Regions from separate parts of the Homo sapiens genome. Here region 1 is linked to region 2. Evidence: fine-mapped expression QTL. A gene starts in region 2. The other region holds a variant in brackets. All regions are shown on one strand. Distances are from middle to middle.

What was found.
Region 1: its variant is fine-mapped to the expression of OR56B2 in blood mononuclear cells (TOPMed, PIP 0.99).

What each region holds. Positions count from the first base shown.
Region 1 is chr11:5,792,154-5,797,554 of GRCh38, reverse strand. No RefSeq gene overlaps it. Among named protein-coding and RNA genes, the nearest start is that of OR52N1, 3.6 kb to the right of the region's middle. The variant A/G (reference allele first, on the strand shown) is at 2,586.
Region 2 is chr11:5,758,801-5,764,201 of GRCh38, reverse strand. OR56B2 (olfactory receptor family 56 subfamily B member 2) reads right to left here and starts at 3,049. Exons shown (of 2, transcript NM_001396057.1): 1 at 2,963-3,049. The coding sequence starts at 2,963.

The DNA of each region.
Region 1 (5,401 bases), 33 kb before region 2:
AAGTAATTCAGAACTTCCTTATTCAACTGCTCTCTCATTTAAATCCCTCCTATATAGTAGCAATTTTGTGCATTTTATATATTTGTTTTCTTTTTATCTGAACCATTTTCATCCAAACTCACCCTGGTGCCAGATGTTTTTAAATTCCCATTCATGACTGATATTACTTAGAAATAATTGCACAATATTGATGAGGAACCCTATGTAACAAACTTAATATCTTCTCTGGGGATTTTCCAAGCCAAGGTAAAAAAATTCTTTGGGGCTTTACAGATAGATGTCCCATAGGTCTCTGAAAAGGAGGTGAATTTACCTTTGTTGAAAATAGATCTATAATTAGAATATGTCTATGCCTGACAGAAAAAAATCTCAAATTTTATTATTGATGGGACATGTGAAGTGTCTAGCATCTATTGAATCATAAACCTGGAATTTTACCTGACTCCCTAGGGCAGTTCCATTCCAGTTTCATAACATTTTATATATTTATTCATGTGCCATGTGGGTATTTTAAAGCTTTCTCAAAAATATTGAGTAAACAATTTCAGAATGTTTTATGCTAGGGGCTCATTAAAATATATATTCTGCAATAAGGCTGAGTTATGTCTTTATTTGAAAGGTTAACACTGTTAAATGCACTGTCTCTCCATCACTGTTCCCCTTTACTTCAGTAGAAATATAGCATTCTTTTCTGTTGCAATCCCCGTTAGTACATCTTGATCAAGTTTAAGGAAACATCAAAGGCTGGGATTGAAATTATCCTCAAAGTAGACAGATGTCTGGAAAGGAATCAAAGAACATCGTGACCACAATTTAATACCTTGGGTTTGTAGAATGAATGCAGTCTATGGAGAGGAGAAAACGGTAAACAGTAATATGATGTAATGGCACATCTTTCTTCTAGCACAAGCAGCTACGATGGACAGAATCCCCACAAATGTAGGTCCTTTTTTCTTTTTCAGTGAGCCAGCTCGCTTACCGAAACACATAAAATAAGCTCTATGCCATAGAGCTTCAGCCCAGAGTGAGTCTTCAATTATTAACAATATGGTGGTGTGTAGCTTTATTCCAGAGCAGATAGCTAATAAATGAAAAACATAGATGTCAGCTTTCCTTTTAAAACTTGCTGAGTTACAATATTAATAGCATTTTTAAAATAATACTTAAATAAATAGTAAGCTATCAGATGCTAGGTAATGCTTCAAGTCCTAGACTCTGCTACAAAGTTCCTCAAGTCAGAAAATCTTTGAAAAATATCCTTACTTCGGTTTTTTTTTTTGCTTTTTGTTTGTTTTCTGAATTAAAACTGTATTAAGCAGGTATATCTGCTTATAAATGCTATGCATATATAATAATATACTTATGAATAGGTGTGAGAAATTAAAATGAAGTCTATTTATCTGGTTATAATACAGGCATACCTTAGACATAGCACAGATTTGGTTTCAGACCACTGCAATAACGTGAGTCACATGAATTTTGGGTTTCTCAGTGCACATAAAATGTATGTTTACACTATACCATGGTCTATTAAGTATACAATAGCATTATGCCTAAAAAATATATAGACCTTTTTAAAAATATGCTATTGCTAAAAAACGCTAGCGATTATCTGAGCCTTCCGTGAGCCATAATCTTTTTGCTGGTGGAGAGTCTTTGACTGCTGTTGACTACTTAGGGTGGTGGTTGCTGAAGTTTGGAGTGATTGTGGCAATTTCTTAAAATAGGACAATAAATGTTGCCCCATTGATTGACTTTTACTTTCATGAAAGATTTGCCTGTGGTATGTAATGCTATTTGATAGCATTTTACCCACAGTGAAGCAGCTTTCAGAGTTAATCCTCTCAAACCATACTACTGCTTTCTCAACTAAATCCAGGTAATATTCAAAATCCTTTGTTGTCATTTCAACGATGTTCACAACATCTTCACCAAGAGTAGATTCCATCTCAAGGAACCATTTTCTTTGCTCATCCACAAAAATCAACTCCACATTATTCATGTTTTATCATGAGATTGCAGCAATTCAGTCACATTATCAGGTTTCGTTTTCAATTCTATTTCTTTTGCTATTTACATCACATCTTTAGTGATTTCCTCCAGTAAAGTCTTGACTCCATCGAAGCCATTTATAAGGGTTAGAACTAACTTATTTCTAACCCCTATTAATGTTGATATTTTGACCTCATCCCATGAATTATAAATGTTGTTAATGGTATCTAATATGGTGAATCCTTTCTAGAAGGTTTTCAATTGACTTTACACATGCACATCAGAACAATTACCATCTATGGCAGCTATAGTCTTACAAAATGTATTTCTTAAATAAATAAGACTTGAAAGTCACAATTGCTTCTTGTTCCATGTGCTGCAGAATGGATGTTGTATGAGCAGCCTTGAAAATAAATTAATCTCCCTGTACATTTCCATTACAGCTCTTGAGTTGCCAGGCACATTGTCAATGAGCAGGAATATTTTGAAAGGAATCCATTTTTCTTGAGCAGTAGGTTTCAACAGTGGGCTTAAAATATTCAATAAACCATGCTCTAAACGTATGTACTGTCATCCAGGCTTTGATGTTCTAT[A/G]TAGAGAGCAAAGACAACATAGAGTTAGAATAATTATTAAGGGCCCTAGGATTTGGGGATTGGTAAATGAGCATTGGTTTCAACTTAAAGTCACCAGCTGCATTAGCCCCTAACAAGATAGTCAGCCTGTTCTTTGAAGTTTTGAAGACAGACATTGACTTATCCTCTCTATGATGACATGCTCTTCCAAAAGAAGGCTGTTTCAGCCAGACACGGTGGCTCATGCCTGTAATCCCAGCATTTTGGGAGGCCAAGGTGAGTGGATCACTTGCGGTCAGGAGTTTGAGACCAGTCTAGCCAACATGGTGAAACCCTGTCTCTATTAAAAACACAAAAAGTTAGCCAGACGTGGCAAGGGAGCCTGTAATCCTAGCTACTTGGGAGGCTGAGGCAGGAGAATCACTTGAACCGGGGAGGCAGAGGTTGCAGTGAGCCAAGATCGGGCCACTGCCCTCCAGCCTGGGTGACAATGGTGAAACTCTGTCTCAAAATAAATAAATAAATAAATAAATAAATATATATATATATATATATATATATATAGAGAGAGAGAGAGAGAGAGAGAGAGAGAGAGAGAGAAGGCTGTTTCATCTACATTGAAAATCTGTTGTTTAGTGAATCCATTTTTATCAATGATCGTGGGATCTTCTGGATAACTTGCTGCAGGTTCTACATCAACACTTGCACTTGCGTGTTATGGAGATGGCTTCTTTCCCTCATGAACCAACTTCTGCTAACTTAAACTTTTCTTCTGCAACATCCTTACATTTATCAGGCTTAAAAGAATTAAAATAGTTGATGCCTTGCTCTAGATTAGGTTTTGGCTTAAGGGAATATCGTGGCTGGTTTGGTCTAGACCACTTAAACTTTCTTTATATCAGCCATTAGGCTGTTTTGCTTTCTTGTCATTTATGTGTTCATTGCAGTATCCCTTTAATTTCCTTCAATAACTTTTCTTTTGCATTCACAACTTGGATAACTGTTTGGCATAAGAGGACTGGCTTTTGGTCTATCTCAGCTTTTGTCATGCCTTTCTTACTAAGTTTAATCATTTATATATATATTTTTTAATTTAAATTGAGAGGTATGTGACTCTTCCTTTCACTATACACTTAGTGACCATTGCAGGGTCATTTATTGGCCTAATTTCAATATTGTTGTGCCTGAAGGAATAGGGGGGCCCAAGAAGAGGGAGAGAGACAGGAGAGTGGCTGGCCAGTGTAGCAATGAGAATACATACAACATTTATAAATTAAGTTTGCCATCCTATGAGTGCAGTTTGTGGAATCTCAAATTGATCTATAGGTTCAATATTGTCTTCACAAAAATCCAAGACAGCTTTTTGTAGAAATTACACAATTAATTCTAAATTATCTATGGAAATGCAAAGGACAAAGGATATCCAAAGAATCTTTTTAAAGAAGGACCTAATTGACAGTGCTTACACTAATTTAAAAATGTATTATAATGCTATGACAATCAATAAAATATAGTAACAGTATAAAATTAGAAATATAAGTACCACCAAATCTAAAATAAAAGTTAAAAAAGAGAAATTGAAGATGACATAAATAAATGGAATGATATCTCGTGTTCATGGACTGGAAGAATTAATATTCTTAAAATGTCTATAAAGCCCAAAGCAATCTGCAGATTCAATGCAATCTCTATAAAAATTCCAATGTCATTCTTCACAGAAATGGAAAAAAATCTTAAAATTTCTATGGAACTATAAAAGACCTTAATTAGTCAAAGCAATATTGACCAAAAAGAATAAAGCTGGAGACACCACACTACAGAATTTCAAAATATATTGCAAAGCTATAGTAATCAGAACAGCATGGTACTGGCATAAAAACAGATACATTGACCAATGGAATGGGCTAGAGATCCCAGAAGCAAACCACACATTTAAAAAGAAAAGGACCTGTCTTCAATAAATGGTATTGGGAAAAATTGATATCCACATACAGAAAATATAAATGAACCCTTAGCTTGTCTCTTATACAAGAATCAACTCAAAATAAATTAAAGATTCAAATATAAAACTTGAAACATTAAATTAATAAAAGAAAACATAGGAGAAAAGCTCCATGACATTGGTTTGGGCAAAGATTTAATGACTGTGACCCCAAAAGCACCAGGCAACAAAAGCAAAAATAAACAATTGAGATTGGATTATATTAAAATGCTTCTGTATAGCCAAAAATACCAATAGAGAGATAACTTCTCAGATTGAAAAAAAATTTGCAAATCATATGCTGGATAAGGACTAATATCCAAAATAAACAAGGAATTCAAACTACTCAATTGCCAAAAAAAAAACCCTATAAAAAGTAGAGAAAGGACTTGAATAAAAATGTCTCAAAAGAAGACATACAAGTGGCCAAAAAGTATGTGAGGAAATGCTCAACATCACTAATCTTTAGAGAACTGCAAATTAAAACCATAATAAGACATTACCTCACACCTGTTACATTGGCTATTATCAAAAGGATGAAAGATAAGAGCTGTTGATGAAAATGTTGAGAAAAGTGAACCATTATACACTCTTGTTGGGAATTTAAATTAGTATAGTTCTTTTAGAAAACAGTATAGAGGTTCCTCAAAAAATCAAACACGGAATTACCATATGATCCAGCAGTCTCACTGGGTATATGCTCAAAGAAATTGAAATCAATATGTTAATGAGATGTCTGCAACCTCGTGTTCATTGCAGTATTATTTGCAATAGTCAAAATGTGTCCATCAATGAATGAATGGGTTTAAAAATATGGAATATGTACACAATGGAATACTATTTGGCCTTAAAAAAT
Region 2 (5,401 bases):
TTTTGTTAATATTTGAATTAAAATATTCAGAACAAATTTTCATGAAATGTTTTACTTGTGCTACTCTGCACTATTTATTTCTTCTTTCCTTTTAAGTATTTAAAATATTAAGGATACAATATAAAGGCAAAAAATTATTTTTAAAATTTGTGCGCTAAAATTATAGAGTCTACAGAGGAGGCAATGTTATGTTGACTTGGTCGATATATTCACTTTAGGTAATAACATCTTATACTACTTGTAACAAAATAAGGTTAATTGATGAAATTGTTTCTACAAATTTTAATGCTTAATTAAAATGTGGCTTGGGGAATACTGTATTGTGTCTAACTGCCCAAAGAAGGAAAAATATATATCAGTGTGTAGGTCATTGAGTTGATATACGTATCTCCCATAGAAACCTAAAGGCGTGGGATATTTGTTATTTATGTCACTGTTTTTCCCCAAGAGACAGACACTTAATAAGCACTCAATTTATATTATGTGAATGAATACTGAAGCAGAAATAAGCAGTTTTATGTCCATGAGTCTTGTATTGTTTATGAGGAGGTTAGGGCTATTGACATATAAGCACGTTAAAAATATAGTGGAGGCCAGGTGCAGTGGCTCACGCCTGTAATCCCAGCACTTTGGGAGGCCAGGCAGGCGGATCAGGAGGTCAAGAGATTGAGACCATCCTGGCCAACATGGTGAAACTCCGTCCCTACTGAAAATACAAAAATTAGCCGGGCATGGTGGCGTGTGCCTGTAGCCCCAGTTACTCAGGAGGCTGAGGTAGGAGAATTGCTTAAACCCAGGAGGCGGAGGTTGCGGTGAGCTGAGATGGTACCACTGCACTCCAGCCTGGGCAACAAGAGTGAAACTCCGTCTCAAAAATAAATTAATAAATAAATATAATGTAATGGAAGGAGACAGGGATTGAAAGGAGAATCATGTTGAAACAATCAAGGGGTAGAAGAGTATAGCGGATATCTCATCAAGACAAGATGAAAACTAAAAATAAAATTATACATATTATAAAACATGAAAGAGGTAATTCATATGCATCTGTAAACATACTGATTCTTATAGATTATAATTGCTAATTAAAAAAGAGACTCAGGTTACATTTTTTAAAACTGTACTATTTTTGAAAGAAACTTTAATACAAAATTTGAAAGCAGAATAAATCGGGTATTCTTAGATAAGAAAACCAATGTAACAATGTCATATATAAAATTAGTAATTCAGTTAAAATAATAATTGTGAAATGATAATAACATTATAATAAACATTAACAGGATAATATAGTATTTGTGACTAGCCTGATCCCAAACACATAACCTAAACTTGAAATTCTAGTAGAAAATGACAAAGTATGGTTATGGTAAAGTATATTTAAATATATTTCTTTAAATAAATACGTAAACAAAAACTGGCAGTGATATAGATTTTTTCTTGAATTATTTGTTTTTGTCTTTTTTTATTAATACATAAATGTACAGATGTTCAGTGTACATGTGATACTTTGATGCTAGGAACATTTAAATTATTCTCTTCCAGCTATTTTGAAATGTACAATAGATTATTGTTAACTTTAGTCAGTCTACTGATCTATCAGATACTAGGTTTTATTCATTCTATATAACTGTATATTTGTACCAAAGGAGTTAAATGTAAATCTCTTGCAAAAAATAAGAGATTACCGATCATAAATACATAAAGAAGATGCATGAATATCAGTGATGCTTTGGGTAATGAGTGAGAAGTAACAAAGAATATCATAAATTTCATAAAACAACATGCAAAATTATCGAAAGCCATAAAAAACAAATGACATTCATATATTTAGAAAAATTTAGCAAGGGCATTAAACGATAAATGAATCAAATATAAAATAGTATTGGACATGGCCTCCAGAGAAAAATTGTTTAAATTGCTAGAGAGTATAGTAAATCAATTATTTTTCTTCAATGAAGTAAGGGTCCACTGTTCAATAGATTAGTAAAGAAAAAAAATACATGTGGCATCTATCTTAGAAAATACAATGATCTAGCTTGAAATACCAGGAAAATTTAAGATAAATCTTTTATAATGAAAAACTGCTTGGAAGAAAACTGTACAATTTATTCTTACAATGGATTATATTTATATATTGATGATTGCTAAACATTAATATTACTTCTTGGCAGGTGTATGTGAGACTCTGTCTTTCCAATTCTAGTATTTCCAATTGAAAGACACACATGTAAATATATTATTCTCACAGTTCAGCAAAAATTCTAATACTTTGGGTGAAAATGAAATTCTGTGTGGCCCTATGAACTTCAACAAAAGTCTTAGCCTCTAGGATTCTTGATTCTATTCTATGAAATATAATAATTCATTTCTAGATTCTGGAGTGTGTTAACAATTCTATTAAAATGCCTAATTAAAATTCTTGCAAGATGGGATAATTAATATTTATGTGGTAAATTTAAATGAGGGCCTTTGATGCCTAATACCATGAAACTGGTACCAGGTATTATGTGTCAGCAAGCTAAGAAAGACATGTGCAGGAATATGCATAAAAACTCAACGGAGCTGGAGAGTTACAGTGTCTAATACAAAAGCTAAATATTGAGCTTGAAAAAATTTTGTGAAGAATTACAAAGCTCCAAAGTATCTAATAAAATAAAATATGCCAAAACAATAAATAAACAAGAAATATCATTCTAAAAATGCTGGTGGTAATATACTTTTATTTTTACATATTAAGACATAGTGGTTATGAAATATCTAACATTTTGTTGTATTAGGTTCCATAAAGTTTTCCAATATTCAGATTAATTTGACATGAAGTGTATTTCATGGTTTCTACACAGTCATTAAAGAAGCATTATGTAGATGCCTCCATCATAGCTGAGGCTTACCCTTCTATATGGCATTCCCAAATCTCCGCGAAGATTAAAAAGACTGACTCTGGCCCCAGCTATGTACTTACTGTGGTGTCCTGTGAAAGACTTGTCATATGTAGTGATCTTCAGTATACCCAGAGCTGGTTTACAGCCACTGAAGATGGACTAGGATATTATGACCAGTGCAGAGAAACTCAGGGACCTGCTTAAGTGGAGGAAAAGTCTATTCCCTAGGGTTGTAAAACCCAATTAGCCTGAAGCAAGTCAAATCTAGGGCGTGGATGTAATTAGGAACAAGTCACATCATTTTGCTAAAAATCTTAATTTGGGTATGGTAGAGCTAGCTTTTATTAAATATAGGCATAAAAGTGTTAAATATCTAAATTTTATGATAATTTTCTCTTTGAGGAAGGCTTTGGGAAAGTTGTTTTTTTTTTTTTTAAGGAAAAGCACAATACAAAACCTCTTCCTACATTTTTAAGTTTTATACATACAGAAATTTCAGAGGGATTTTCTGTCAATTTGTATCTCTAGGACTTGTACAATATTGAGGAAAGCACTCCAAAAATAATTCAGGTAGTGAGATCTAGAGGTCAAATAATATTAAGTAATTGATGAACAACCATAGGATAGAGGCTTAAAATTCTTGCATCCTCTTGTATTCAGTTTAGGTAGTCTGAGCTTCATTACACAAAAGGAAGGGAAGATGAGGTGCTTAGCTCTCTGATAGGTTGTAGAATAGCCTGATTCTCTCTGGGTAACCCTAGAAATAGTTTGCAGAAGAATTCAATTTGTCAACTCCATCCTACCTATCCCCTCTTCTAACCTCACACAAACATATGCAAATAAGAAATCCATATGATTTTATAATATTCCATAGTCTAAGCTTATCAATGCATATGCATAGTGTACACAGCACGCCTTCCCCAACCATGTCACACAATTAACAGAAAACTTTCCCTTAATGCAAGCTAGATTCAGAACTACTTTATCTATTTCATAACAAAAATAGCAAACACTTACATAGTACTTCTTATATGACAGAAATCATTCCTTGTGTCTTACATATTTTAAAAATTATCATTCATAATAACCTCCATTGTGTTAGGCACCAGTATCTTTACATCTTATAGATAAAGGAACTGATGCACATAAATTTTAAGAAACTTGCCTGATATCACACAGTACATGTTATAGCTGAACTTGGAATTCTCACGCTCCCATTGATCCTATCTACACAATTCCGAGGCTTTTTCATATCTCTAAATGAATCAGACAGATGACTGTATTGTGAGAAATTATAAATTTTGTTGATTTTTTTCAGGGAAGCAGCTCCATGCCTTATTGATTTTTTCTATTATTTTTCTGTTTTCAGTTTTATTGATTTCACTCTTATTTTTGTTGTTTTCTTTTTTCTACTTGCTTTGGATTTATAGTCTGATTTTTTCTATACTCTTGAAGTGGTAGCTGAGCTTATTGATCTGAGACTTTTAATTCTCCTAATATAATTATTTAATTGTATGAATTTCCCTCTTGGTAATACTTTCGCAGTGTCCCACACATTTTGATATGTTGAATTGTCATTTTTCTTCAATATAATTTTTTTTTGAGACACAGTCTTACTCTGATGCCCCGGCTGACGTGCAGTGGCATGATCTCGGATCACTGCAAACTCTGCCTCCCGGGTTCAAGGGATTCTCCTGCCTCAGCCTCACAAGTAGCTGGGATTACAGGCATGGGCCACTATGCCCGGCTAATTTTTTTTTTTTTTTAATTTTTAGTAGCGGGTTTCACCATGTCAGTTAGGCTGGTCTCAAACTTCTGACCTCAGGTGATCCACCTGCCTCGGCCTCCCAAAGTGCTGGGATTATAGGCATGGGCCACTGTGACCGGCAATATATTTTTTAAAATATCCCTGACACTTCCTTTTTGACCCAAAGATTATTTAGAAATGTGCTGTTTAGTTTTCTACTGTTTGGAGATTTTCATTACATATATATGCTACCATTATATATATATATTATATATATACTACCATTATATATATATATTATATATATACTACCATTATATATACATATTATATATATAAAATGAATAATATATTTATTTATTTCCAGTTTTACTTCATTTTATGTGGAAAATACACTCTGTATGCTTGAAATTATTTTTAAAAGTTTGGGTTTCTTTCATTGTTCAGTACAATTTAGGGCTATGTTCTGTGAGCACTTGAAAAAAAAAATGTATTCTCCTCTTGTTGAGTAGCATGTTCTAGAAGTGTTTTTCAGATTAGGTTGATTGATTGTGTTATAAGTTCTTATATATCATTGCTAACTTTCTGTATAATTGTTTTTTTTTATTGTTAAGAGAAGTGAGTTAAAGTCTGTCCCTGAAGTTGCAGATTTTATATTCTTACTGTCATACAGAATGTACTGTGGGAATGTACTGTGGGAATGTACCAAAATTCATTTAACCCATCTGATGGTGATGGACATTTAGATATTTCCAGTTTTAAGTTTTATTCT